Regions from separate parts of the Homo sapiens genome. Here all the other regions are linked to region 7. Evidence: fine-mapped expression QTL. A gene starts in region 7. Each other region holds a variant in brackets. All regions are shown on one strand. Distances are between the middles of the regions.

Region 1 (4,068 bases), 180 kb before region 7:
CTGGTGGAAGATGAGGCTCAGGGTGATTGGACTGAAGCACCAACCTATCAAGGAGAAGTCCCACCCAGTCTGCCCTGTGCGTATATAAAGGCGACGCGTGGCGGCCGCAGCACTCATTGAAGCCGCCAGTTGGGAGAGGAGCAGAGCCAGGCCGGTGCTCCCGAAGGCAGCAAGATGTTGCGAGCCACAGCTCCCTGCTGGTTCCCACCTGGATACCCAGAAACTAAGAAGGTGGCCGAGGAGGCGGCCCTCGAGGCTCCAGAATTCCCACTGCCCTCTCATCAGCCTGCCCAGAGCTTCGGGCTCTGGGTGCCCCAGATGCACAAGCAGGCCTCAGCATTTGTGGACATCCAGGCAGAGCCCCAGAACAGGGGTCCGGCGGTGCCCCCAGCGTGGCCCAAGATGGTGACGGAGTCGTGCTACTTCCCTGCGCAGAGGGGATCGGCCTGCCGCTTGCCAGCCGCCCCAAGGCTGACAGAGAGGCCCTCGGGAGTCCGCATCTCAGCCCCCAGGAAGAGGAAGACGATCGCCCACTCTTCCAGCCCTTGCTTGGTCACAGGTTACACAGATGCCAAGAGAACCCGGGTGGCCAGCAGTAGCCAACGCTCCAGTGGCTCCAAGGTCGGCAGACAGCCAGGGAAGACGCGCAACAGGTCAGGGATGGCATGCAAGACCACCGCCACCATCAGCTCTAAGCGAATCGTCCGTCGTCCATCCTTACCGAGTTTGAAGAAACCCATTATCCTCCGAAGCTCTGGGTGCCAAGTCCCCACCGTCCTCCGCCGAGGCTATCTCCAACTGTTCACCGAAGAGTGTCTCAAGTTCTGCGCCTCCAAGCAGGAGGCCGAGGAGAAGGCGCTGAACGAGGAGAAGGTGGCCTACGACTGCAGCCCCAACAAGAACAGGTACCTGAACGTGGTCCTGAACACCCTCAAGAGACTGAAGGGCCTGACCCCCAGCTCCATGCCCGGCCTCAGCAGGGCCGCCCTGTACAGCCGCCTCCAGGAGTTCCTGCTCACCCAGGACCAGCTCAAGGAGAACGGCTACCCCTTCCCGCACCCCGAGCGGCCCGGAGGCGCCGTCCTCTTCACTGGCCAGGGGAAGGGGCCCGGCGACTCCTCCTGCAGGGTCTGCTGCCGTTGTGGCACCGAGTACCTGGTGTCCTCCTCGGGCCGCTGTGTACGCGACCAGTTGTGTTATTATCACTGGGGGCGGGTCCGCTCGAGCCAGGTGGCTGGAGGCCGGGTTAGCCAGTACACCTGCTGTGCAGCTGCTCCTGGCTCTGTGGGCTGCCAGGTGGCAAAGCAGCACGTGCGGGACGGCCGCAAGGAGAGCCTCGATGGCTTCGTGGAGACCTTCAAGAAAGAGTTGTCCAGAGACGCTTATCCAGGAATCTACGCCTTGGACTGTGAGATGTGCTACACCACGCATGGCCTAGAGCTGACCCGCGTCACCGTGGTGGACGCCGACATGCGAGTGGTGTACGACACCTTCGTCAAGCCCGACAACGAGATCGTGGACTACAACACCAGGTTTTCCGGAGTCACCGAGGCCGACGTCGCCAAGACGAGCATCACGTTGCCCCAAGTCCAAGCCATCCTGCTGAGCTTTTTCAGCGCCCAAACCATCCTCATCGGGCACAGCCTGGAGAGCGACCTGCTGGCCCTGAAGCTCATCCACAGCACCGTGGTGGACACGGCCGTGCTCTTCCCGCACTACCTGGGTTTCCCCTACAAGCGCTCCCTCAGGAATCTCGCGGCCGACTACCTGGCACAGATCATCCAGAACAGCCAGGACGGCCACAACTCCAGCGAGGACGCAAACGCCTGCCTGCAGCTGGTGATGTGGAAGGTCCGACAGCGCGCCCAGATCCAGCCACGCCACCGGTCCGCCTCTCCCGCCGCCCTGGCCTGTCCTTAGCCCCAGGCCTCTTCCAAAACTGCCATTCGTCCCGAGAGCTCACCCTGCCCACCTCGCCGCAAAGCGAAAGAAACTGGAGCAGCAGGCGGCAGGAGAGGGCAAAAAGCCAAGACTATCCCCGACCCCCGACTCCCAGTGCCCCGGAGTCCCTGCAGCGGGCCGCCGTCCATGTCCCCATCGCTCTGCCCCTCCCAGACCTCTGTCCTTCAACCAATCGCCTCCCCGAGGCCCGAGCCCCAACTCCCATTCCCCCGGGTCGCTGCCAAGGCCCCTCGCGCCTGTCCCCATCCCTCTGCCTGTCGAAGACCTCTGTCGTTACACCACTAACCTCACTCAGCCCACCTGCACTTCCCTGGCCTCTGAGAACAAGGCCAGCCCCCAGGCCCACCAGCTTCCTGACAGTCTTCTCTCCTGGGCCTCTTCTCCTTCTGTGGGGCTTTCTGA[A/G]CCTCCCCTACCGCACCCGATTTTTTCCCCACCCCCGGCGCAGGCGCAGAATAAATGGTTATATGAATTTTAAAATTTAAAATAAAAAAAATTAAGAACAACTCAGAGGCATTTGCTTCTTAATGTGCACTTACCTGTTTTTCTCTAGAGCCACCACAGTGAGATGGGTGAAGCACTTAGGCTCTGGAGTTAGATATCTGGGTTCAAATTCAAATTCCACCACTTACTAGCTTTGTAATATTGGACAAATAACTTTTTTGCGCTTCTACTTTTTTATCTTTAAAGTGTGATCATAAGGTAATGGTGAGGAAGGAATGAAGCAACACATGGCAAGCCTTAAAACAATGGCACATAGTAGGTGTTCAATTAAGAGTCAAAGTGGATTCTTTCACCCAGACCAATCAATTATAATGTCTGAATCAGTCAGTCAACTTCCAACTGGGCTCCAAGAGAGGATGAACCATCATGCCTCCCTAAATCCACGTTTCTGTTTTGAATCTTCAGTGAGAGATGAGACTCTAAGTAGCTAGTTTTGGTGGAATGGCTGATTTTATAAATGTGTGTGGGGGGTGTGTGTTTGTGTATGTGTACATAACTAAATGAAACTGATATTTTGAATGCTTACATTACCATGAATTTAATTTGTGTATATGAGCCCACACAAACATATATACACACTCACTAACTGTTCCAAAACAATGACTTAGTGAAGAACTGGATTTCCACTCTGTCAGACAAATTTCGGAATGCACTGAAGTAGGGCATTTCTGATTGATTTTACTGTTCCTGGAATTTTATTTTCCTTCATAACTTAGACTTCTTGTGGAGATTTAATAAATAAAAGTCTTTTTTAGTGTATGTTATTTCATTTTATTTTTATAATTTACTTAAATTTTAATTTTAAATTGACAAGTAAAAATTATATATGTTTATGGGGTACAACATGAGGTTTCCTATATGTATGCATTGTGGAATGACAAAATCAAGCTAATTAACACACTCATTTCCTCACATACTGATTTTATTGTTGTGAGAACAAGTTTTAAATCTACTCTTATAGCAAGTTTCAAGTACACAATACATAGTTATTCACTGCAGTTGCATGCTGTTCAATAGATTTCTATCAGTATTCCTATCTGAAATTTTGTATCATTTGACTAACATCTCCCCAATCCCTCCCCAGCCCCTACCTCGGGCAACCACCCGTCTGCTCTCTACAACTATGAGTTCAATGTTTTCAGATTCCATATATAAGTGAGATCATGCAGTATTTGTCTTTCTGTGCTTGCTTTTTAAAACTTTATTATGTATTTATTTATTTTATGAGACAGGGTCTCAGTCTGTCATGCAGGCTGTAGTACACTGAGAGAAACACGGGTCACTCACCATGGTCTCCACCTCCCCTGGTCAAGAGATCCTCCCACTTCAGCCTCCTGAGTAGCTAGGACTACAGGCGTCCAATATCACATCTGGCTAATGTTTGTATTTTTTGTAGAGATGGGATTTCACCATGCTGCCCAGATTGATCTCGAACTCCTGGGCTAAAGTTCTCCACCTGCCTTTGCCTCCCAAAGTACTGGGATTACAGGCATGAGCCACCATGCCTGGCCTTTGCTTTATTTCACTCACTATAACATCCTCTAGGCTCATTCATGTTGCAAATGACGTGATTTCTTTCTTTTCTAAGGCTGAATAGTATTCTGT
Region 2 (4,068 bases), 370 kb before region 7:
ATAACAAAAGAGAGAAACAAAATCCTACCCACAGGAAGCAGGCTACAGTCTTATTTTGTGAAGCCATGAGCCATTTCAAATAATGCAAAGAAACTTCCTTTACCCCTTTACTCCGGGAGGAATGTTGAACATTTAAAGGAATATTACCTCACCAGATAGATAGCGTTAAACACATGTGCTTTCTTCTTTTGTTCTCTTCCAGCTCCTCATTAAAACAAAAGACAATGAACTTTGTCTTAAAGGTATAAACCATAGGGGCAAAAAAATGGGAGAGGGCATGGCAGCATCAAAAATCTCGAAAACAGGAGAGATGAAAAAGGCAGCCTCTTTTTTCCAGGTGTAATGGCTCACACCTGGAATCTCAGCACTTTGGGAGGCTGAATCAGGCAGATTGCTTGAGCTCAGAAGTTTGAGACCAGTCTGGGGCAATATGGCAAAACTTCATCTCTACTCTGGAGACTGAGGTGGGAGGATTGCTTGAGCCCAGGAGGTTGAGCCTGCAGTGAGCCGAGATCATACCACTGCACTCCAGCCTGGGCAACAGAGTGAGATTTTATCTTCAAAAAAGGAAAAGAAGGGAAGGGAAGGGGGGGGAGGGGAGGAGAGGAGAGGGGAAGAGGAGGGGAGAGGAGAGAAAGGGGAGGGGAGAGGAGGGAAAGGGGAGGGGAGAGGAGGGGAAGGGGAGGGGAGAGGAGGGGATGGGAAGGGAGAGGAGGGGAAGGGGAGGGGCAAGGGAAGGGGAGGGGAAAGGGAAGGGGAGGGGAAAGGGGAGGGGAGAGGAGGAGACGGGAGATGGGAGGAGGGGCGAGGGGACGGGGAAGGGAAGGGTGGGAGGGAAGGGGAGGGAAGGGGAGGGAACGGGAAGGGATGGGATGGGAGGGGAGGGGAGGGGAAGGGGAGGGGAGGGAAAAGAAAAAAGAAAAGAAAAGAGAAAAGAAAAAGGCAGCAGATCTGGGGAAAATGAATCCGAAACTGATGATAAGGAAAGCTGAAAAGCAATCTAATTTGTGCCATGAAAGAAGACAAAATGTTCTGAAGCTGACAGCATCAGGTAACTCTTGAAGGGGTTGAGGAGAGATGGGCTGGCTAAAATAGGGAGAATGAGTTGAAACTATAAGAGGCTGCTGAATCCCCAGACCCCTTTCCTCACTCACTCCGCTAGGTAGATGGCTGAGCCTTTCCACTGCAGTAGCAGATTGGAAGTTTACTCTGCATAGAGGGTAAAACAGTCTCCAAACTGGAACATTAACCACAGTTAAGGGTGGAGATGCTCTTTGGCAGTAAATGTTTTAGTAGGACTCATGCCTTCTCTATAACCTGCCATTTCCACTCCTAGGAATATGCACAACAGGCAGGTGTGCACAGCCCGCCAAAATACAGGTTCAAAGATGTTCACAGAATTATTTGTAGAAGTCAAAAACTGGAAACAGTGCAAAGGTTCATCAACAATAGAATGGCCAAATAAATTGTGGCATGTTCTTCCAATGGAAACTCACAAACACAATATTGAATGAAAGACGTCTGACGAAAAGGTTATTTATAAGTTTTTAGTTATAAAAAAGCTCACAAAACAGGCAAACCTAATCCTATGGTATCAAAAATCAGGGTAATGGTTAATTTAAGAGAAGTAGGAGGATATAAAGCCTGGGAGGGGACATTAAGGGAGCCTTTGGGATGCTTCTCTTTCTTGAGATGAGTGTGGTTATGTGGGTGTGTTCACTCTGTGATCATTTGTTGAGCTGAACGCTTATGATTAGGTCACTTTTTATATGAATATCATACTTCAATAATAAAGTTAATTTTTAAAAAGCGACTCAAATAAGAGATCTGTAGATTGCATATCAAGTCCAGAAGTCTTAAAGAACCCCTATGTTCAGTGTAGGGTGGGTTTCTTTGTAAAACTTGCCATCAGTGGAAAGGAAGTAGATAGAGGAGGTTGACGAAAGGGAGCCCTTTTAACCCAGGAATCTGTTCAGAGAGGCCACCTGCACCTAGGCTGTGACTTCAATCACTTACAGTTACTAGGCACAAGCAGCTCATTCGCCGTACACTGGATATTCAGCATAAAAAAGTTTTCTTCATTTCTCCCCAGACCATTTTGGTGGGCAGAATCCTAAAACATTCCCAAGATTTAGGGCCCCTGGTGTACTCGCACCTTCTCCCAATTATTCAATTAAACACCAATTCGCATGCTGAAGTGAAGGGATTTCTTGGATGTAATTAAGATACCAAATAAGGAGACTATCCTGGGAGAGCCTAACCT[A/G]CAATGAGACCTTTAAAGGCAGAGAATTTTTCTGGATGGCCAGAGCAGAAGAGTTCAGAGAGATATGCTCAGGCTGGCCCAGAAAAATGTAAACCTCCATGCATGAACTGCCTGTGGGGGCCAGAGGCAAGGACCTGTGGCATCTTCTAGAAGCTGAGAATGGCCCCTGGGTAAAAGCCAGCAGGAAAATGGAGAGTGCACAACTACTACTGAGAAAAAAATGAACTTTTCCAACAACCAGTGAGGTTGAAAGCACTCCATTTGAAAACCACGCCCCTGTAGACACCTACATTTCAGCCTGATCAGCCCCTGAGCAGAGATCCCAGCCCTGCCATTCCTGGACTTCCAACCTACAGAAACTGTTAGATAATAAATTTGTGTTGTTTGAAGCCACTGAGTTTGTGGTAACTTTTTATGCTGCAATAGAACACTGATGCAAGCACTTTCTCCCACTATTTCTCTCATCCATCATCTCATTTTATATGTTATATTGATAAGGTGCTAATTACTAGTAACAGTTGCCCTCCTCAGACTTCTAAAATTATCTAATACAAGAGTTTCCTTTCACTTCTTTCAGCAGTAGATCAATGGAGTCCATATTAATACCTTACTAGCATTTAGAACTCGTGGGCCTATAACCTAAAAGACTAAAAATTGGTCAAAATTGAAATCTAGAAGATGAAGAATAGTGTGAAAAATGGAACACACATGTTTTGACCAGAAGCATTAGCATGAATGAGTAATCTCTGAGAGATGAGTAAGAACAAAAATATTTTTTAAAGTAGTATGTAAGAAATTAACCATAGAATTTGTTTCAACAGGGGTATAGAGAAAATTTAATAGATTTTTAAAAGCTTTAAACCAATCTGTGTGTTACAGAAGCAATAAATGGGGAAGCAAAGAACAATGGTCTGATACCAAAAGAACCCCACAGGCCAGTCTAGAAGTTCTTCAGCAGGAGATCATTGTCTTGGATGCATGGGTGGAGCCATGCTGCAGATCCTTTGTCTCTGTTGCGCAGATTGCATAATTGGTCCACTTAACTCTCCCTGACTTTGCCGGGTCCTCACGCTTCTGTCACCACCTATGCAGGCTGCTTTGTATTTCTTCATCATTGTTATGTTCAACATGAGGCCACCGTTCAAAAACATTATAAATAGGATTTGATAACAAACTTTCTAACTGCAATGAAAATAACGTCCAGGGTTTCAAGCACACACATCCTCTATATTAAAATGAGGTCTGAGTTGAGAAAAGCTGTATTTTGTGAGGGTCTGAGTTGAGAAAAGCACTCACAGGTGCTGGCTGAATGCTTGAGGATTTATAGAAGTAGAAAATTCTGCAGACCTTTGTGTGCTGTGCCAGCGGGGGTCAGGAAAGTTCTGAGAAATGACCTAATTAAATCAGTACATAATAGGAGAATAAAAATGCCTCACAGGCCTAAAGACACAATGAGTCTTTGACCAGATGCAGACTTTCACTGCATTTAAAGAAAGTACAGCTAAAGAAAGAAGTGGTCAGCAGGAAAAACAGCAAATGACAGCCAGACCCTCACTGTGTACCCACAGCTGGTTACATGAGAGAAAATATATCTGGGAGGTGAGAGTATTCTCAGTGAGAAGATGAAATTTCACAGGTGGCAGAGTTATTTCAAGATTTTCTAGACTTTGGAGAAACTATTTCCCCAAACTAATATCCCTTTCCTGAATTTTTATGAGGAAGGTATTATGGATAAATAACTGGAACATTGCAAGTTCTTTTTTGTTTGTTTGTTTGGGTTTTTTGTTTTTTGTTTTTTTGTTTGT
Region 3 (4,068 bases), 390 kb before region 7:
TTCAGGGTCAGAGTGGCCGGAGCCTATCCCAGCAGCTCAGCGAGCAAGGCAGAAACCCACCCTGGACAGGATGCCATCCCATGGTAGGGGCACTCACACACACACACCCACACTCATGCCTACTGGGATAACTTAGACACGCCAACCCATCTCACGTTCACATCTTTGGGTTGTGGGAGGAAACCAGAGTGCCCAGAGAAAGCCCATGAAGACAATGGTAGAACATGCGAACTCCCCTTGTCTAGATCTGGCTGGGAATCAATTCTTTTCTCATCAACAAACATGACATTAAATGAAATGATGTTATTTGAGAACCTCCTGTAAATAATTTTGGCTTTGTGACCCTACAGTATCTGTGGCAACTACTCAACTCTGCCTCTGTAGTATGAAAGCAGCCATAGTGGGTATGGCTGTGCTCCAGTAAAGTTTTATTTACAAAAACATATGGTGGGCTAGATTCTGCCCTCAGAAGTAGTTGTCAGCCTCTGATGTAGATGACCAATATGCAGGTGACCAAAGTTCTTAAGTGTTCCCCTAGGTGGTATATTATGTGTACCAGGAGGATGAGAAGGCCTGAGTCCTGTTTGCTGGAAATTCAGTTTATCTGATTGCAAATAATATAAAATACTTTTATATTAAGACAAACTCAGTTATTTTATGGAATGGAATACATGATGGCTAATTTTTGGTGTCAACTTGACTGGATTAAGGAATATCTAGAGAGCTGGAAAAGCATCACTTCTGGGTGTGTCTGTGAGGGGGTTTCCAGAGGAGATTGGCATGAGTCAGTGAACTGTGTGGAGCAGATTTGCCCTCAATGTCAGCAGGCATCATCCAATCAGCTGGGAGCCTGGATAGAACAGAAGACAGAGAAAAGGTGAGTTTCTCTCTCTCTCTCTCTCTCTCTCTCTCCTGGAGGTGGCGTGTTCTTCTTCTCCTCCCCTTGGACATAAGCACTCCAAGCTCTCTGGCCTTTTGACTCTAAGACATGCCAGCCGCCCCCGGGGTTCTCAGGCCATTGGCCTTGGACTGAAAATTATTTCATCTGCTTCCCTGGTTCTGAGGCTTTTGAACTTGGACTGAGCTGTCCTACCAGTATCCCACGGTCTCCAGTTTGCAGATGGCCTGCCATGGGAATTCTCAGCCTCCATAATCCCATCAGTTAATTCTCTTAATAAATCCCCTCTCAAATATCTACATCTACCTATCTACCTTATTGATTCTGTCTCTCTGGAGAACCCTAAATCATATAGAATACATTTATAGGCCTTTAAGAGTGAAAATGTGCAGCTTTAAAGGGCTGTGGACTTTGTTAAGACAGGCTCTTGGGAATACATTTTTAGCTCTCCTCTGCTATTACGGGAATTTGGGTGGAAAAGTTTGAGAGCCACTGACTTAGAGACACTTACGTAACTAATTACTACATGGGAACACCAGTGTGGTCTCATTTAATCACAGCCCCTTCATTTATCTGGAGATGTCGGAAACGCAGCTAATGCTTTCCCATTGCATTGTTTCGAGGTTAATATGCTCAGTGCTCTTCTGATATTTCATATGGGTCTCTGCCTACTAGTCACTGGGACTCTGAAACTGTCGTTTCCCAGAAGCAGCCAATTATTTCAGTAGAGAGTCCTGAGGTTT[T/C]CTGCTATTGCTTTGCAGAAGTTGCTGCAATTGTTACATCTTTTCTGGCTCACCTCAAATTTGAACATTATAATTTCATATTCAGAGTCTCCTGCTTATCTTGTGCCCCAGTTTCAGCCATTTATTAAGCCTGTCTTGTCTTTTTGGCCATCTACTACTCTCAGGCAGGTCTTCAGAGGTCTTGTTACTCAGACACAGATGAGCAGCATGAGCATCATCTTGGAGCTTGTTAGAATTGCAGGATCCCAGGCCCCATCCCAGACCTAGTGGGTTAGAATTTGTATTTAAACAAAATCTCCAGTGATTTATATATACATTGAAGTATGTGAAGGCAACCTTTTCATGGCCACAAGGATCTCATTGGTCACTTGTTTTGTTTCTGGTTACATGGAAGCACCATTCAGTTTTCACATGCTGTGACTGTTAATTTTATGTGTCAACATGGCTGAGATATGGGGCCCAGTAGTATGGTCAGACACTAGTCTAGCTTTGCTGTGAATGTATTTTATAGATGTGACTAACATTTACAACTAGTTGACTTTAAGTTGTGAGAATTGTTAACATCAAAATGGAGTCACTTGTGAAAAAAAAATACAGCTGAAGAAAGTCATGAAAGGAGAGTTCTTATGCATAAATGACTTTTAGTAAGAATGATCACATAAGACTGCAAAAACCACAACCTTGCACAAAGGCCATTGCAACTTTACATAGAAAAACTTCTGCAAGACATCTGCCCAGCAACTGCCTGTCCAACCTTGTTATTGATCCTTGTAGCAAAGATAATTATCTTGCAATAATTATGTAATCTTCCTCATTTTTCTTTTAAAAACCTTTGTCTTCCTTTACCTCCCTGAATACTCACACAGTTTACTATGGCACACATACAGTGTGTGTCCTATTTCTGAATAGTTATAGTGTCCTATCCCTGAATAAATGTTTTCTTTTAAAGAGCATCTCTCTGTTTGTTATTTAGGTTGACATAAATGTGTCCAGAAGCAGGACCTGAAGCAAGAGCACTTTTAGAAGGAATCTGCGATTCTTGGAACTGGTGTGCAGTATTCACTTGAGATCTCTGAGCTCGCCACGTGCATGCCTTGTCTTTTCTGACCTGGTGAATCTTCTCTTAGGCTGAGTCTCTTTTTGGTAGAGGCTTTTTGACTTTCTTCAGGATTTGGTTTGGTACTAAGGCAGCCTTAAATAAAGGAACTTGCATCCCTCTTAAAACTATGGAAGTTTTGGGGGTTTGTTTGTTTGTTTTGCAAACGCTTTCTGGTGTAAAGATAAGAGTACTCTAGTTTTTACAGAATTTATATTGTTTCTCAGGCATGACTTTTCTGGTGAATTCACATTGGTTCTGGACACCTAGTTTAATGTTTTGTTTGGTCTGCATACATGGGTTAAAGTTTTTGTGAACACTCTGATTTTGGTTTAGTTACACATGTCTGTAAGTAACTTGGATCTTCTTTTCTCTAGCTTATTTCTGAAAAGCTTCTGAGAGCGAAAATATACATCCTAAATGGCGGACACAGAATGACTAATTTAAAAAGCGAATACCTGAAACACTAGTCCAAATTCCTGACATTCTCTGACAGGATTTATGGGATTTTCTTTGCTCTTGAGAGATTAATAAGAAAGAAAGTGAGATTCTCAAACATTAAGGCATGCCAGGTTTTCTGAGACTCCAGCTGGCTACATATGATGGCCTGTTCTCATGCACATTTTTAAACTAATGAGCAAACTTTCCTTCATGTCAAGGAAAATTCAGAGCTCAATGGCCATTATTCAAACTCTCTAAGCTTGTTAAAAATCTACAACCAACCATAGAGTTAACATGCAGAGCTTTCTAAGTTCTCAATCTCTCTATTTTTCCTTCTGGCTATTTTGAATCTGCTAATTTTCTACTAGTGTTGAGATAAACTCACTGCTTATGGCACACCAGACAAGATTTAAAAAAAAAAGTTTCAAAGATTTTTTTTTAAATTAATGGCTGTACAAATTACAACAGCTCCATGGCAACAAACAACCTACACATCTTTTGGGAATTAGGTTTTTTGACTTAGCAATTGCTTGGAGTAACAGAATAGTTAAATGAATATTTATATTCTAAAAGAAAGGAGGCTGGGTGTGGTGTCTCACGCCTATAATCCCAGCACTTTGGGAGGCCAAGGTGGGCAGATCACAAGGTCAGGAGTTCAAGACCAGCCTGGCCAAAGAGACCAGCGTGACTAACATGGTGAAACCTTGTCTCTACTAAGAATACAAAAATTAGCCAGGTGTGGGGGCAGGTGCCTGTAATCCCAGCTACTTGGGAGGCTGAGGCAGGAGAATTGCTTGAACCCAGGAGGTGAAAGTTGCAGTCAGCTGAGATTGTGCCATTGCACTCCAGCCTGGGCGACAGAGTGAGACTTTGAGTCAAAAGGAGGAAAG
Region 4 (4,068 bases), 54 kb before region 7:
AGTAAAAGCATTTTACCAAAAGGAAAATGGAAAATCATCATTTGGAGTGTCATTTTCTGCCATAAAAGTTATGGTGGCAACTTACTTCTAGGCAAGTATAGGATTCTAGATCTATTTCTTAAATATACCTATTCCAGATCTATAATCCTAAAATATTATTCACTGATATCAGATCCATGTTAACAATGTACCCCGTCAAGATTTCAACAGTACATGTGAGTTTAATAAAAGTCCTCTGCTCTCTCATATCACATGGGTTGGTGAGCCACAACCCAGATAGCTATAGGTTCCCTAAGAGAGCTCCAAGGAAACAACAATGAATAAGAAGAAGTTGAGTCTATTTTTTCCCTCAAGAAAACAAGCAGACCTTTCCCAGAAACTGATAGACAAAAGTTACTTAGGTTTCTTGTGGGATTTATTGAGTTATGTTATGAGTGTGTATCATTGTAAATTTAAACCATGCGTATATTTATACACTGTCTCAAGTCCTTTCAGAAACAGACAGGAGCATAAATTTAAAACAAATAACAGTACAAATTTATATATAACTACAGAATTGTTGGCACATGCTACATGATATGCTGGCATACTCGTTTCATATTTGTAAGATCAAATTGATCAGTGTTATTACCAGCAGTATGGCTATATTGCTTTGCTTTATTTCTAAGAGATTTGAACCTTATTACTTTAAATAGAAAATGTGACTGCATCATTTAAATTGCTCTGATCGTAACCCAATGCAATGCATAACAGAAAAAAAGAGTTGAAAAACTGTACCCTTTTTAAGAACCCAGGGAATACGTAATTCTTTCCAATACATTTAAGAATAGTTTGTCTTGAATGTTGTAATTCAAGTTACAATTTATTCTTATTCTTTCTTATATGCCTTGTACAAAAAAAAATAAAAACGGTTTGCATCTGTCTCTAACAATGCATATTTATAATAAGGCTATGAAAGAACTTTCAGATTTAAAGTACGCAATATTTTTTTAAAGTTCTCCAATCTTTGTTTTTTGTTTTGCTGTGTTTTGTTTTTGTTTGGAGACAGGGTCCTAACTCTGTTGCCCAGGCTGGAGTGCAGTGGTGTAATCACGGCTCACTGCAGCAGCGACGTCCCCAGCTGAAGCGATCCTCCCACCTCAGTCTCCCGAGTGGCTGTGACTACCAACGTGGGCCACCACGCCCAGCTAATTTTTTGTACTTCTTGTAGAGAAGAAGTTTTGCTATGTTGCCCAGGCTACTCTCGAACTCCTGGGCTCAAGCCATCCTCCTACCCTGGCCTCCCAAAATGCTGGGATTACAGGCATGAGCCACCACACTTGGCCCTAATTCTCCAATCTTAGTCTAAGAATAATAGGAAAAATTATACGATTCAGATTCAGATTCCACAAACATTTATTGAAAAGCTACTACAGGCTGGGCACAGTGGCTCATGCCTGTAATCCCAGCACTTTGGGAAGCCGAGGTACAAGGATCACCTGAGCCTGGAAGATTGAGGCTGCAGTAAGCCATGATCCTGCCACTGCACTCTGGCCTGGGTGAAAGAATGAGAATCTAACTCAAAAAAAAAAAAAAAAAAACCTACTACATGCCAGCCACTGCACCAAGTTCTTCCTATGGTATCTCATTTGCTCTTCATAACAATGTGGTGAGGAAAGTATTATTACTGTTTCTATTTTATAGATGGGCAATTGAGACTCATGGGGTAAGATGCTTACTATCACACAGGTAGAATGGAAAACGCCCAGGAAACAGTCCAGCACACAGTAGGCATCAGTAAATATTTGCTGAATCTGAAAATACACTGCCTTTTAAGACAAATTTGCTGCTTTTCAGCATTCTTAGATCCTATCACAGTGGGTGAGTAAACATGAGGTTTGGCAATCATTTTAGCTTTTTGTGTATTTATTTTTATACGTGTTTTCTTTTATCTGAACAGGTTATTAAACTGTCTGCCAAATGTTTTACACTCTTTAAACATGTTCGAAGTCAACCTTTTCAAATTATATTGTATTATTAACCCACTACATTTCTCTGCCTTGTTGTTTTATAGAGTATCTAAGAAATTGAAGTAAAGTAGTTTGAGTTTAGTTTGATAAATCTGGGAAAACATCCCCTTATGTTCGATCAATGTTTATATGTTCTGACATTACAATTTGGACATGAAAATGGCAAATTGCTTTAAGGTCAACCTTTACGTTTTACTAATTTCTTGTCCCCTCAGAACATACCACAGTGCCTGGTACATCATAAATATTCAAT[ATG/G]TTTATTTATCAGATAAGTAAAATAATGAATGAACAACTCTTATATTGCATGCTACCTACATATAAAACAAGTAATTCTTTCCTGCAATGTTTGTTTTGGTTGCATTCAATCTGGCTATTTAAAGACAATGTTAAAACTCTGCCACTTACTAGCTGTGGAAACTTGATCAAATCATAGAAAGAGGGTAAGCCCCAATTTTCTCCTCTTTAAAATGGGGACAGTAAACTCTATTTGCAGAATAAATTATGAAAGTTGATGGAAGGTAGTTTTGAAGTTTGTACCTGTTGTGGATTGAATTGTACACTCCCCACAAGAATCGTATGTTGAAGTCCTAACCTAGATTACTACAAAAGGTGACCTCACTCAGAGATAGGATCTTTACAGAGGTGATGAAGTTACAATGAGAATAATATAGTGGGTCCTAATCCAAAGTGCCTCGTGTCCTTACTCAAAGGGAAGTTTGGAAACAGGTGCACACACACACACACACACACGGAGAATGCCACGTGAACATGAAGGCAGAGATTGGAGTGATGCGTCTAGATGCCAAAGAATACCAAAGATTACCCCAAAACCACTAAAAGGTAGGGAAGAAGCATTGAACAGATTCTTCCTCACTGCCTCAAGAACGAATCAACTCTCCTGACACTGGATCTTGGACTCCTAGGCTCCAGAATTGTGAGACAATAAGTATGTTGTTTAAGCCACTTAGTTTGTCACATTTTGTTATAGAAGCTCTAGGAAAGTAACACAATGTCTGATTATGATTATTTCCTGAGTTAGGAACTTATAATCGCCAGGTGCAGTGGCTCAAGCCTGTAATCCCAGCACTTTGGGAGGCCGAGGCGGGAGGATCACTTGAGGTCATGAGTTCGAGATCAGCCTGGCCAACATGGCGAAAACCTGTCTCTACTAAAAATACAAAAATTATCTGGGTGTGGTGGCAGGCGCCAGAAAGCCCAGCTACTGGGGAGGCTGAGGCAGGAGAATCGCTTGAGCCTGGGAGGCAGAGGTTGCGGTCAGCCGAGATCGTGCCATGGCACTCCAGCCTAGGTGATAGAGTGAGACTCGGTCTCAAAAAAAAAAAGTTAAAGTCACCTTCTGGGAGGAAGGAGTTGGCATAGAGCTAAAAGCTTGAGAAGAGAGACTCATTCTACCTGTAGTTACTGGACATCTCCCATGCGTCAGCTACTATGCTTTGTCACCAGAGATATAACCGTGACTAAGAGTCATGGCTACTACCCTCACAGAGCTGATTGCCCAGCAAAGGTTTGAAAGTGCTATGGTGGAGAACAGGTAAAGGAGGCAACTTGGGTTGAGTAAACTAATTGTTAAACCCTACCAAGTTCAAACTGTTGATAGGCACAACCTTTTATGAGTTAGATTTTACCTGCTTCTTTGATTTCATTTTCAACCTTCAATTGATTCCTTCCCCATCACTCCACATATTGTGTACATATATGCTTGTGCACATGTGCACACAGATGCGTGCACACACACACACACACACACACAGAGGTTATGCTGCCACCACACTCACTTGCATTTCCCAAAACTCCGATATTTTTTGTCTCTCACCTTTGTACATTCCATTCTCTCTGCCTGAAAGTCCCCTCTCCCATTTTATTTACTTGGCAGGTTACCAAGTTTTCCGGTGTTCTAAACTCAAGCATTATCCTCACATTTTAAATTTTCTGACCACAGCCTGAGTTAGAGGTGTCCTTCTGCTTCCATAACACCAGACACTCATTATTATACTGGATTGCAATTGGCTGTTGGTTTGTTTGAAACCAGAGGCTGAGT
Region 5 (4,068 bases), 430 kb before region 7:
AGTTACTGAGAATGAGCAATATAAACACAATTTAAATATTTAAGTGATTCTATGATAATGTATATTCTTGATATGTACACATTTGAACACTCACTCTACCCACTGTTATCATCTTCCCCAAAATTCTTTAGGCTATTTTTAAAAAGAAGACCTATAAATATTTAGAATAAATGTTCTTAGCACAACACTTAATCACTGTAGTTGCTGGATAGTATATTCCTTATCAGGACCTGTATTTGGTCATGGTTTAGCTGGGCTTCGGTGAATCCATTTCAGATTAGGTATGCTTGCCAGAGACAAGAATCTGGTAAGGATATTACATCTGGGTTACACTGGAAAACAGAAAATCCATTCAAATAACCAGGAGATAAAGCAAGAAAACATAATTTAAGTGTATGTGCGATAAAGACTGTGTTAAAAACCCACAGTTCTTACCTTCACAGAGTTTTAATAAGCCTTATATAGGTATTTACATATATAATTAATAACAATTATTCATAATAATAATTATAGTTCTATTTGCTGAATTTTCACCATGGTCAGGAGCTGTGTTGATACATTATTGAACTGTTACAACAGCTCTGTTTAGTAGCCATATTCATTTACATTTTACAGTTGAAGAAATTAAGTACAGGGAAGTACAGTGGTTTGAATGAGGTCACACAACGACGTGTCACAGACTCAACTTTGAAGTTGGCCTCTATGTTGTACCATGGCGGAAAAACGTGTTAAGTATTCCAAAAGAGATGCAAGCAAAATGTTGCAGGAAGAGGAAGCCCAGATATTGTACCTGTGGGAGTAAGGATGGCAGATGGGTGGGTCAAAGAAAACTTTAGAGAATATAACATTTGAACTGGTGCTTGAAAGATTACTAGGAATTCACCAAGGAAAGACCAAGAAAATGTCTCTCTCAAGCTGGAAGTCTGAGAAGGATGTTGGAGGAAGAATGAGGACTCCTCATGTGTATAAATAATACAGGGGGCCTTGGTGACAATGAGGTTAGATGATGTTTAAGTGATGCTATACTGCAAAGGGCCCTGTAGACGCTGCCAAGGTGTTGGGCTTTATCCTGTGTGCAAAGAGAGTGTATTTATCCTGTGGTTATTGGGATGATTACCTTGGCAGCTTGTAGATGGATGACCCACAAGAGTAAATTAAAGTTAGTGACACAGGGGATGATGGAACGGGAACCTTATTCAAGAGTAATTTCTAATGTAGAATTAATAAATGTTGGTGACCAAGTAGATATGAAGATTGAGGAAGAGAGACTGAAGAATATCATAAAGGCACATCATGATTATGTTGGCATGACAGATTAGGACATAAATATATATAATCCTCATAGGTTTACTTCTTAGATTCCGGCCAAGTAATGGAGATAGGTTTGTCCTTGGATCAATCAGTTTTCCCCTATAAAGAATAATAGATGACAGAATATCTCTTCTCATTTCCTTCTGATAGCTAGAGTTACATTTCTAAACCTGCGTGTCAATTTTAAGTCTAACCCAGGGCAATTTGAATGACTAAGAAGGCATTACAATTTAGACCATTTTAATAATTTGGTTTTATTAATAAGCAGCCATTTGCTATGATTAATTTTTACCTTATTGTATGGAAACAGTGGCCAAATACACAGTTTTGCACTGAAATCTGACTTCATTCTGATGGTCCCTGGAGTTCTCTGAAACGGGATGACTGTACATCACTCTGTGG[C/A]TCACTCAGCCTGCTCTCTGCAGTTTAGCCTGCCTGTTCCCATGCCCACCCTCTAGTCAGGGTCTCTCCAATAAAAATAGTGTTGTTGTTCTCCTCAGCTCCTAAACTGGGGTAGCTGTTGGGGCAACAGAAGCTTGATTTGGCATAAGCAGAAGAGATAAGATCAAAGTCCTAAGAAAAATAGAGTAAGAAGTAGCCTGCCCTTTGAAACCTTGGCTGACTACACTCCAACCTTGTGTTTATAAAGCCTTCAGCATATCACAAAGGAGACAAGAAGACAGAGAAACTGGATGAGATGTTAGAGTTCCTCCGTATTTTGGGTTCAGGAGAAGCCAGTTATATATCTTAGAATCCCTTTTCTCCCCACCATTTTTTGAGAGGTTCCCTAAATCACATCTTGCTGAAACCAGACTGAAATATTCCTTTTGCTTTATGAGAACATGCTCAACTGAATTTTTAAGGTATAATGAATAACTTAAAAGTTAATAATTTAAGGTGTGTACTTTAGAAAAGAGGAATAATCAGAACTCTACATAGGTTTAAGTGTTGGTAGATCTGCCATTCTATTTGGAGGTCTAATAGCAAAAATTTAAAAATATTTCTTCCTTATTAATAGTCCCCTCAGATGAATTCTTACAGCTGATCTAATCCTTTTGCTAGATTTTGTGTCCTGAGCTTTTTCTTTCTTACTTTTTATTTATTTTATTTTTTTAATTTTTCTTTCTTTCTTACTTTTTAGAGGAAAATATAGTAATAAGTGAATATATTATTCTATAGAAGAGTTTTTGAAACATAGAATCATTCATAAAATATTTCTATTGCTTTAGGCTGTATAATTAGGATCTCTATGATTGATTTCTTATTGACAAATGGTGACTTAGGAGGGCCCAGGTTTAGCATATAGAAAGTAGATCAAATTCTAGTACACATTAAAACCTTATTTATGCATTCTTCATTTTACTGAAAAAAACAGATATGTTGAAATTTATATAATTCACCCTGAATTTATTTAATTCAAGATGTTCTGATTATTTATATATAAAAAAGCTTTGCCAAAGTTACCAGGAAGTTTGGATTCTTGGGCTTCAGTATCTCTGCTCTAAAATGCTTTTGGGGACCTTATCTGAATGGTCGGAATTCTAAGAAGTTTTTCAACTTTCCAATAGTGATTTTGAAAGAACACAACACACACAAATAATGAATTGCACATGAAAATCATAAAACCACAGGAGAGAAAGAACACTCCAGAACCTGTTAGCCTGGTATCCCAGGAGACAACATTTTTCCCAAGAGCATAACTCATCTTTAAAAATATTTTATGGCTCTTCTCTTTAGCTTCTCAAAGAAGTCCTTGGCAGACAAATGGTTAAAAAAACCCTGGTCTAGGCTTTCCACTGCTTGAATGGTAATCAACCTTACTTTTACCACTAGATTAGTACCCAGTTAACCAACAAGTACTATATTAGTCTCTAGGGTGAACCATGGTTATTTTTATATATAGGGAGGTCATAAGTCTTAGCCACAAAAGCAATGCCTCCTTTCTGGTGTGTGTCCTGCTACAACATCATCTATTACCTCCAAGACTGTGGGATTTCTTTGATTTTTACACATTCAAGTCAGTGAGGTTGTTTGCATAAACCACAAACTCCAAGGTGCTGACTTACCACCCGCTGCCTGGGTTAATCTGGTCCCCTGACAGTGCTATAGACACTGTCACATTCACCATGAATCAGGAAAGCTAAAAATGGTTTAGGAAAAAAATAAGTTCATGGTAATATTTCATTCCTGAAATGTATTATTAGTTGATCCATTTAAATATGAAATGAGGCAGGCATAGTTAACTATTGAATAACTATTTATATATATATATACATATATATATATAGTTATTTATTTATTTATTTAATTTACTTTTATACCTCACAGGAATAGCATTCTTTGAACACCACTTTGCAAGATGTTGCTAAAAGAAGAAATCAAGAATTACAATTTCATCATAATCATTATCTTCAACAAGTCTTCTAGATACATAAGAGGTCTGTGGACTAGTTTTACCTGTAATCTTCATTGCTGTGGATAGCTGCCTTCACAGCTTTACAAGAAATGGGATAGGTTGAAAGCAAGAGTTCAACTCTAGGGTACAACTTCCCTAAAGAAATTAAATTTTATTGAGCCCTTGCCATGTACAAGGTGCTGGGAATGAGGCAAAGATAAAAATAAGATAATTTTGATCTTCGCTCACCAAAATGCTGTGAAGGAGTTCATAGACTCAATTAATTTGTGTATACAATACAACTTATATAAATTAATTTGGTGAACTATATTGCATTGTTATCCTGTCATATTTTGAGAGAG
Region 6 (4,068 bases), 490 kb before region 7:
AGGACAAGGAAACCAAAATGCTTTACTGTAATGCTCCAGAGACTCATTTAGCAAACAAGGGTATGATTATAGTTTATTTCTTTCTTGGAAATATTTCACATTCATCTTTCCCCTCCAAACACTTTGACCCTACCCTAGCTGGCTTCTTTTCCTTTCATGCCAGATTGCTGCCACAATCTAACTGTTTACCCTTATGTAAGACTATTCCTATCATAACCCTAATACTAACTGAAACCTTGCTTTAAGGAAGCTTCTGAAACAATTAGCAAAATCTTTCTAAACCCAAATCTTTCATCTCATTCTTCCATTTAAGATTCTTCATTACTTTTTACATTAAATCTAAGATTCACTTTCTAGTTTTCGATATTGCAAAGAAACTTTTTTCTTGATGGAAATTATATCTACATTGCTTTTAACATCTAGTTAGAGAATTATATATTGTACAAAAAAGTGACATTTATAAATTCAAAGTAGTTTAAATACAAGTTCCAACAAGAAAATTATAGAATGTTATAGGCTAACTGCAAAATTCATCTGGAAAATAAAACATGAAAGAATAATCAAAAAATTATTTTTTAACATAAGAGGGAATTTGATCTTTCATATATTGAAGCATGTACTTAAGTTATAATAATCAAAACTGCCTTACATTCCTTAAAAAATAGAACAATAGGGTGAACCCAATAGAGAGTTCAGAAACAGAGTAATGTATACTTTGAAATTTAGTAATGATAAAGGCAGTATCTCATATCAGAGTGAAAAGTACAAACTACTCAGTAAATAATTTTGTGCCAACTAATTTTTCATTTGAGGAAAAAAGGTAAATTATTTAAATTACACTATGTACAAAAGTGAACTCCAGCTGGATTAAAAAGTTAAATAAAAATTGTTTTAAAATAATTTCAACTTTTATTTTAGATTCAGGGACTACAAGTGCGGGCTTGTTACATGGGTATATTGCATGATACTGAGGTTTGGGGTACAAACCTCATGATCCTGTCAGCCAGGGAGTAAGCATAGTACTGATAGGTAATTTTTCAGTCCATGCCCCCCTCCCTCCTTCTCCACTCTAGTAGTACTAAATGTCTATTGTTCCCATCTTTATCTCCATGTGTACTCAGTGTTTAACTCCCATTTAAAAGTGAGGATGTGTGGTATTTGGCTTTCTGTTCATGCATTAATTCACTTAGGATAAATGCCTCCAGCTGCACCCATGTTACTTCAAAGGGCATGATTTTACTCTTTTTTAATGGCTGCATAGTATTCCATGGTGTATATGTATCACATTTTCTTTATCCAATCCACCATTCATAGGCATCTAAGTTGATTCTATGTCTTTACTATTGTGGATAGCACTGTGATGAACATACAAGTGCATATGTATATCTTTGGATATATACCTAGTAATGAGATTGCTGGGCTAAATGTTAATTTGGTTTTAAGCACTGAGAAATCTCCAAACTGCTTTCCACAGTGGCTGAGCTAATTTACATTCCCACCAGCAGTGTATAAGCCTCCTTTTCTCTGCAGGCTCACCAGCATTTGTTATTTTTTGACTGCTTAATAATAGTCATTCTGACTAGTATGAGATGGTATCTCATTGTGGTTTTGATTTTTATTTCTCTGATGATTAGTGATGATGAGCATTTTTTCATATGTTTGGTGGCCACTTGTGTGTCTTCTTTTGAGAAGTATCTGTTCATGTCCCTTGCCTATTTTTAATGGGATTGCTTGTTTTTGCTTGTTGATTTAAATTCCTTATAGATTCTGGATATTAGACTTTGTTGGATGCACAGTTTGTATCCAAAACAAACACAGTTGTTTGGGATGAATATTTTCTCCCATTTTGTAGGTTATCTTTAGTCTGTTGCTAGTTTCTTTTGTTAGGCAGAGTAGTTAAATAAAATTTAAAACTGCTAAAGAACTAAGAGAAAACATGAGAGGATATGTTTACAAATCTGATATGAGGAGTGTCTTTTAAGCAAGTTGCAAAATGCAAATACCATAAAAATATTCATAATTGAACTCTATACAAACTACAGTGTTCTTGTACCATAAAAAAGTTAAGAGTCAAAGAAAAGACAAGAAGAAAATATTATTAATATAGAAAACAGATGGAGGAGTAGTATTTAGACTATATAAAGAACTCTTACAAATCAATAAGAAAAACACAACTAAATAGTCAAATGAGCATAGGACAAGGATAGGAAAAGAGAAACA[G/A]TGGAAAATATGAAAAGAAGTTTCTCTTCATCAGCAACAAGGGAATGCAGATTAAAACAAATGAGATTTTTTGCCTCTTTAGCAAGACAAATTAAGTAAAAATGGAGCTAATCTAAGTATTATATGAGGACATAGAGAAATGAAGAACACTCAAATTGGTTAAGTAGTTTTCCAGAGAAATTTGGGAATTTTTATTAATATTAATGATGATGGAAAAATATTCCCATATATGTATAAAGTGGCATTTATAAGAATATTCATTTCAGCACTATTGGGGAAAGTAAAAGTTGCCAAGCACCTAAGGAAACTCATGACTAAATTATGGTACATTCACATGAAGTAACCATGCAGCAGATGAAAGAATAAGGAAGACCTATATTTGGAAAAGAGAAAATATTTTCAAGGCATAGTAACTTAAACATGTTGCTAAACTAAATGAACAGAATGATCCCAGTTTTGTAAACAAAACTAAATAAAATCTCACAGAACAAAACTAATTTTCTATATGTACGAAGATGTATGTAAATGCATAGAAAATGGTTTGAGAAGATACAAGGCAAAATGCCAATGGTAGTTTTTTCTGTTGCAGGTAACAAAAATTGAGTGGAATTGATGAAAGTGACAGACTTGAACTTTATCTATATTTTTACAAAAAGATTGTTTTCATGCACAGCCTCTAATTAGACAAATACATTTTTAAAAAGTAAACAAAAATGGTGATGAGATAACATTAGATAGATAATTTCACTCTGGCTGAGGAGCTATTGGGTACCACCTGGCAGAGTAAGCAAATGGTAAACTGAGTCAGGGATGTACATGAAGGTTGTCTTCACCTTTTTCAAGTTACTCCATTTTCAGCCATCTCTGCTAAAAATAATAGTTTACATCTTGTTGTTCTTTTAGATTTGATAATGTGCCTTCCCTATACCATCTAATTTAGTTAAGAATTTGGTATGCCGCTCTGATAGGAAGAATAAATTAGTAAGCTGGCTGAAGAGAACTTAAGGCTTTGTGAACTAAGAAAAGAAATATGGTTGAAGACAATGGAGAAGAAGAAATCCTGTTGAAAGTGCAAGAATCAAGTAAGAATGAGATGGCAGCTCTGTGGGTGGTAGGGTGGTGGCTTGGATGGGTATGTGTTTAGATTCTGGTTGTGTGCTTAGAGCACTAGTTGTGATGACTAAACTTAGTCTGAATTTCTGGCCAGTGAGAATATGCATCTTACAAATGAAATGGATCAGTGCAAGAACAGGGGCAACAATTTGTATGTATTGATTGGCTTACATTACTTTGGCCTGAAATTTCAACACAATGTTAAATATTTGGCCTCTATTTTTACAACCATTGGTGTGGTAGCAGGACCTGAAATTCTATCTGCCCTAATCTAGCGGGAGTGTGCATGTTCCAGGTGATAGGAATGGGTTCACAGCCCTCACTTAATTTTGGCTAACACAGCTTCTTTCTCTCTTAAATGGAGTTGTCCCCCTCCTGGAAAGAAGAGTGTCAGAATAAGACAAACTAGGCCTTAAATTCCAGGTAGGAAGCTGATGGGAAAAAGGACAATTGTGTCTGTAATCCCAGCACTTTGGGAGGCTGAGGCTGGCAGATCACAAGGTCAGGAGATCGAGACCATCCTGGCTAACACGGTGAAACCCCATCTCTATTAAAAAAAAATACAAAAAATTAGCTGGGCGTGGTGGCGGGCGCCCGTAGTCTCAGCTACCCGGGAGGCTGAGGCAGGAGAATGGCGTGAACCCGGGAGGTGGAGCTTGCAGTGAGCCGAGATGCACCACTGCACTCCAGCCTGGGTGACAGAGCGAGACTCCATCTCAAAAACAAACAAATAAT
Region 7 (4,068 bases):
GGCATATCGCAGTTATTCAATGGCCTTCATAGAAGCCAAGGGTTTTACAGGGAAGAAACGGCCCCGGGACACTTCAAACTAATTAGCCTACTTCTCAGAATCTGAGACCTAATGAAAATGATCAGGGTGGCATCCTTGAGTCCTGAGACAAACTGTATTATTAAGAGGGTTCCTGCCACTGTTCCTGGCTCCTTCCATTAAGCTCGGAAAACAGCTACTGGCTAAAAGACACAAGTTATTTTCTAAACACTGACCTGCTTTGTCCTGAGAGTCATCAAACTCCACGTTGAAAGCATGACCATTGTTGAGGATCCTCAGGGAAGTTGCTTGATCATAGGAAACAGACAGGGGCTTCAGGGAAGGGTCATACTTGGCTGTATGAGTGTCGATGTCAACAGGGGACTGGCGCTCTCCCTTGGCAATGGGGAAGTCCTTATGCCAGTGCTCAGGTCCTGGGGGAAAGAAGACATGTGAATCCCCCATTGTGGGGAAAGGTACACCCAGACCCCTAGAGAAGAGCAATCATTCCGGAGCCAATCTGCTCAGTTCCAATTTTAGAAGCATCACTTAACAATGGGCTAAATTTTGGGAAAACACGTAATCTGTGCCTCAGTTTCCACATTTGTAATATGGGATAATTAGAAATCTACCTCATAGATGTCGCTGTAAGAATTAGAATCGATATATGTAAAGCTCTTAGATCACTGAGTGCTATATAAATATTAGCTATTTTAAGGTCGTTTTACTGAAATTCAGCAACTGAAATCGGGCAGACACTAATGTCAGGGCTTGTGGTTGCGATTTTGGGATATGCAAGCTCACTTAAGACATTCAAGGAGGTCTGGATCCTTTCCTCACTGCCCAGGCCCGGGCCCACCCCACCTTTAACCGTCAGGGTTCCCCACTACCTGGGAAGCCCCACACCCTCCAAAGATGCGCTAGGTGCGCCAGACGCATGCTCCTCTGCTCCGCTGGCTCCGAAGAACCAGATCTGAGGCCAAGATAAAACCCGATTCCTGATGTCCGACCCCCTAACATTAGAAGTCGAGAGATGAAGGGAAAACTCGGAAATCAGAGCCATGGATTCAAACCAGCACTGGAAAATGCCCCGGGACAGTTCGTGCTGAGCGCCTTAGCCACAGGTGGTGCTGAAGCTGGAGGGGTGGGGTGGGGGTGGAAGGTGGGGGAGGGGGGAGGGGAGTCTCTTAATTTCTCTGCGATCAACAACTAGAATTTTCCGTTACAACCCTTTCCCGCCTCCTCCTAGGTCCGGTTAAAATGATCCCCAGGTCGGGACCCGGGAGGGACTGTCCTCGGGTCCCGCGGCCAGGGCTGCGCCTCCCCTCCCTCGGGCCCTACGCGCCTCCGGCGGACGCGGGGATTCCTCCACAGTGGCCTCGCAGCTGGGGCAAGGGGGACATCCCCGGCGCCGCGGAGCCGCGAGCGGAGCGAGCGCCCGGGGCGCACCTGAGCCTCCAGCACTCCCCGCGGCCGCGGTAAACAGCATGTGCGGGCGCTGCGGGCCCCGGGCCGGCATCCGGGCTCGGGGATCGGGGATCGGGGATCGGGGATCGGGGCGCCCCCGCGCTGGCCGTCGCCGGCACTCACCGTTGTGTTTGCCGTACCCCCAGTGATGGGACATGGTCGCGCTGGCGGTCGGGGCAGGGCAGGAATCGGCACCGATCTGGCGGCGGCGGCTTGGGCGCCTGCACTGTGTGTCCGCGGGTCGCGCCGGCACCAGCTTTTATAGGCTCCCGCCAACTTCGTGCTCGGGGGCGGCCCGGGGGAGGGGGCTCGGGTGGACCTAGGCGACAAGGGGAGGTGGTGACGGGCGGAGGTGAACTCCCCGCGCTCGGGGCGGGGCGGGCCGGGCGGGCGAGTCTCCGGGGGCGGGGAAAACGCCCTCTCGGCTGGCGCCCGGCGGGGCTCCGGGGCTCCGGGGCTCCGGGGCTCCTCTCCCGCCGCCCGGCTCCCCTCGGCCCACGGCAGGGCCCCGGTGTCCTGGGCTGGCAGCGAAGCTCGGAGCTCTGGGCGTGCGGCGGCTGCGGTGGCTCCTGGGCTCCTCCGTCCAACCCGGGCCGCGGAGCCTCTACGCGCACCCCATCCCCCTCCCGGCTGCGGAGTCTGGCGGCGGCGGGGACTGCTCGGGACCCGGACCCCCGGCGCCTTTCGTCCCCTGTCCCCATTGTGACCTGTCTCTTGGCCCCGGAGCCCTCCCGCCCCACCCGCGCCGGGGTCTCCAGCGCGAAGGGCTCAGTCTCTGGTGTCCCCGGCCTGGGGCTGGCAAGCTGGGTTAGGAGCTATGACCTTGGGGCAAATAGGGATACGATCCTAGAGGCGCAGGGGAGCGCGCAGCATGAGTGCTGAGAGGCACGCGCCCTCTGCTGCACGGCCGTGGAATAAAACGAGACAACGGCCCCACAGTCCCCTGCCCGCAGCCCACGCTCGGGCGAGCCTGGAGGATTGCATTTCCTCGTAGGCTGGCAGAGCCTTACATGAAGCGCTCATCTTCTCCTACTTTCCTCCTCTTTAAAAAATTAACGTGGGTGAGGAGACGTCCTAGTTGAGTACATATTGATTTGAAATAACCAAAACTTTTAACAAATCACTTTTCTCAGAAGAATCCAGTAAGAGAAAGATAATTTCTTCCAAAGACATGAGACGTTCCCTGGCTGGCCAAGAAAAATTGGCATCTGGCATACCTAGGAATCATTCAAAATAGTTTAATAGGAAGGACATTTTGAGGCCAGCCAGCATTATGACATTTGTGGGTCCTACGGCATTTCACCTTGGTGGGTCCCTTTTTCATAAACACGCATTTATACCAACACTGACATAAAGATAAATATCTTAATATTATATATTTAAACATTTTCTTTAACCAACACCTAATTTTTTTCTTTTTTGTTCTTATTTTAAAAGGAAACATTTTCCTGGGCATCTAAAAGTATTGTGGACCTGAGACACTGTGCTTACAGGGCCTACTGGGTAAGTGAGGCTGTTTTGAGATATAGAGAGAATTCATTTCCTACAAGGGATTTTGCCACAGAAAAATCCGGGGGTTTGTGGGAAGGAGTTCGGTTCTGTGGTCTCTGCAATCTCTGAGGGCAATAGTATTAGAGTTACAGTTGGGGAAGCAGGACACAGTTTAATGTGATTGTGTCGGCCTTGACATCACATTACTTACCTTTGAAAATATACAGATAAATACAAGGATAAGTTATTAGTGGACATTTTTGCAATATGTATCTCAAAATCACTCTTTACTATTTATTTCAGTCAATTTCATCCAAACAAATATGATTCATGTTTAGACTTACTTGTTCTAAGATTCTAGAAAATTGTGTACTTCTGCTTATGTGGGTTTTGGGTTGATGTCACAGGGAATTCTTAGGCAAGAAAGCAGCAATAAAGTTTTTAAATTTTTAGGACCATTACAAAATGGAGTTTGTAGCAAAGAAGAAGCTTTTATTTGTGCCTCTGTAGGTGCATTGTATCTGTTGGGGCCCATTGATGTAATTTTGTTTCTTTACATAATTTTCAAATATTAACTTAGTTGCTATGAGACTCTTCACTTGGCCCTGGAGATATGGCGTTGATAGGTGCCAAGAATTGAGTGCAAAGTTTGTGAATGTAGAGTGGCTTCCCGGGATTCTGTGGAGGGAGCCAGGCGATTTGATCAGCAGGAATCCTTGTCTTTCATTTTCCGTGAAACTGGATTGTGGCTTTCCTAACAGGGATGAAGTAAGAGCATGTTTGATTCTTAAATATGCGTAAAACTTCAAACACCACCAAACTGCAGTTCACCAAATGGATTATTGTCATGGGAATTTTTCCTTATCTCTCACTTCTGGAAAGTGAATTAATTCTCAGTGGGAGCAAGCCCTCCCCACAGAGCTGCTGTTAGGGAGAGTGTCACATGTTCACCACAGGGTGGAGAGTGGTTCACCTTTGGTTACTCAGAAGCAATCTAAATTTTTTAGCAGCGTTTTTGGTATTACAGTGGTTGGCTTAGCATTGTTTTATTTTCCTGGTCAATTTTTTTTAATGGAGTTAACTTTATGCATT

The links. PIP is the estimated chance that this variant, and not a neighbour inherited with it, causes the effect.
Region 1: its variant is fine-mapped to the expression of CA2 in whole blood (TOPMed, PIP 0.98).
Region 2: its variant is fine-mapped to the expression of CA2 in whole blood (INTERVAL, PIP above 0.99).
Region 3: its variant is fine-mapped to the expression of CA2 in whole blood (INTERVAL, PIP above 0.99).
Region 4: its variant is fine-mapped to the expression of CA2 in whole blood (TOPMed, PIP above 0.99).
Region 5: its variant is fine-mapped to the expression of CA2 in whole blood (INTERVAL, PIP above 0.99).
Region 6: its variant is fine-mapped to the expression of CA2 in whole blood (TOPMed, PIP above 0.99).

What each region holds. Positions count from the first base shown.
Region 1 is chr8:85,640,577-85,644,644 of GRCh38, reverse strand. It overlaps the pseudogene REXO1L8P. Among named protein-coding and RNA genes, the nearest start is that of CA3-AS1, 180 kb to the right of the region's middle. The variant A/G (reference allele first, on the strand shown) is at 2,365.
Region 2 is chr8:85,829,855-85,833,922 of GRCh38, reverse strand. No RefSeq gene overlaps it. Among named protein-coding and RNA genes, the nearest start is that of LINC02849, 23 kb to the left of the region's middle. The variant A/G (reference allele first, on the strand shown) is at 2,264.
Region 3 is chr8:85,851,319-85,855,386 of GRCh38, reverse strand. LINC02849 (long intergenic non-protein coding RNA 2849) reads left to right here and starts at 6. Exons shown (of 3, transcript XR_001745725.3): 1 at 6-83; 2 at 711-877; 3 at 2,615-2,868. The variant T/C (reference allele first, on the strand shown) is at 1,642.
Region 4 is chr8:85,515,345-85,519,412 of GRCh38, reverse strand. All of the region lies in intron 3 of LOC105375937 (a long non-coding RNA gene), which reads right to left. Among named protein-coding and RNA genes, the nearest start is that of CA3-AS1, 52 kb to the right of the region's middle. The variant ATG/G (reference allele first, on the strand shown) is at 2,263.
Region 5 is chr8:85,895,843-85,899,910 of GRCh38, reverse strand. The region is part of intron 1 of LOC124901971 (a long non-coding RNA gene); the gene reads right to left. Among named protein-coding and RNA genes, the nearest start is that of LINC02849, 42 kb to the right of the region's middle. RefSeq lists a silencer at 3,237-3,531. The variant C/A (reference allele first, on the strand shown) is at 1,714.
Region 6 is chr8:85,952,261-85,956,328 of GRCh38, reverse strand. No RefSeq gene overlaps it. Among named protein-coding and RNA genes, the nearest start is that of LINC02849, 99 kb to the right of the region's middle. The variant G/A (reference allele first, on the strand shown) is at 2,221.
Region 7 is chr8:85,461,656-85,465,723 of GRCh38, reverse strand. CA2 (carbonic anhydrase 2) reads right to left here and starts at 1,717. Exons shown (of 7, transcript NM_000067.3): 1 at 1,609-1,717; 2 at 255-452. The coding sequence starts at 1,642. CA3-AS1 (CA3 antisense RNA 1) reads left to right here and starts at 809. Exons shown (of 3, transcript NR_121630.1): 1 at 809-1,142; 2 at 2,923-2,988. RefSeq lists enhancers at 1,109-1,608, 3,509-4,068 and silencers at 1,252-1,721, 1,832-2,151, 2,222-2,481.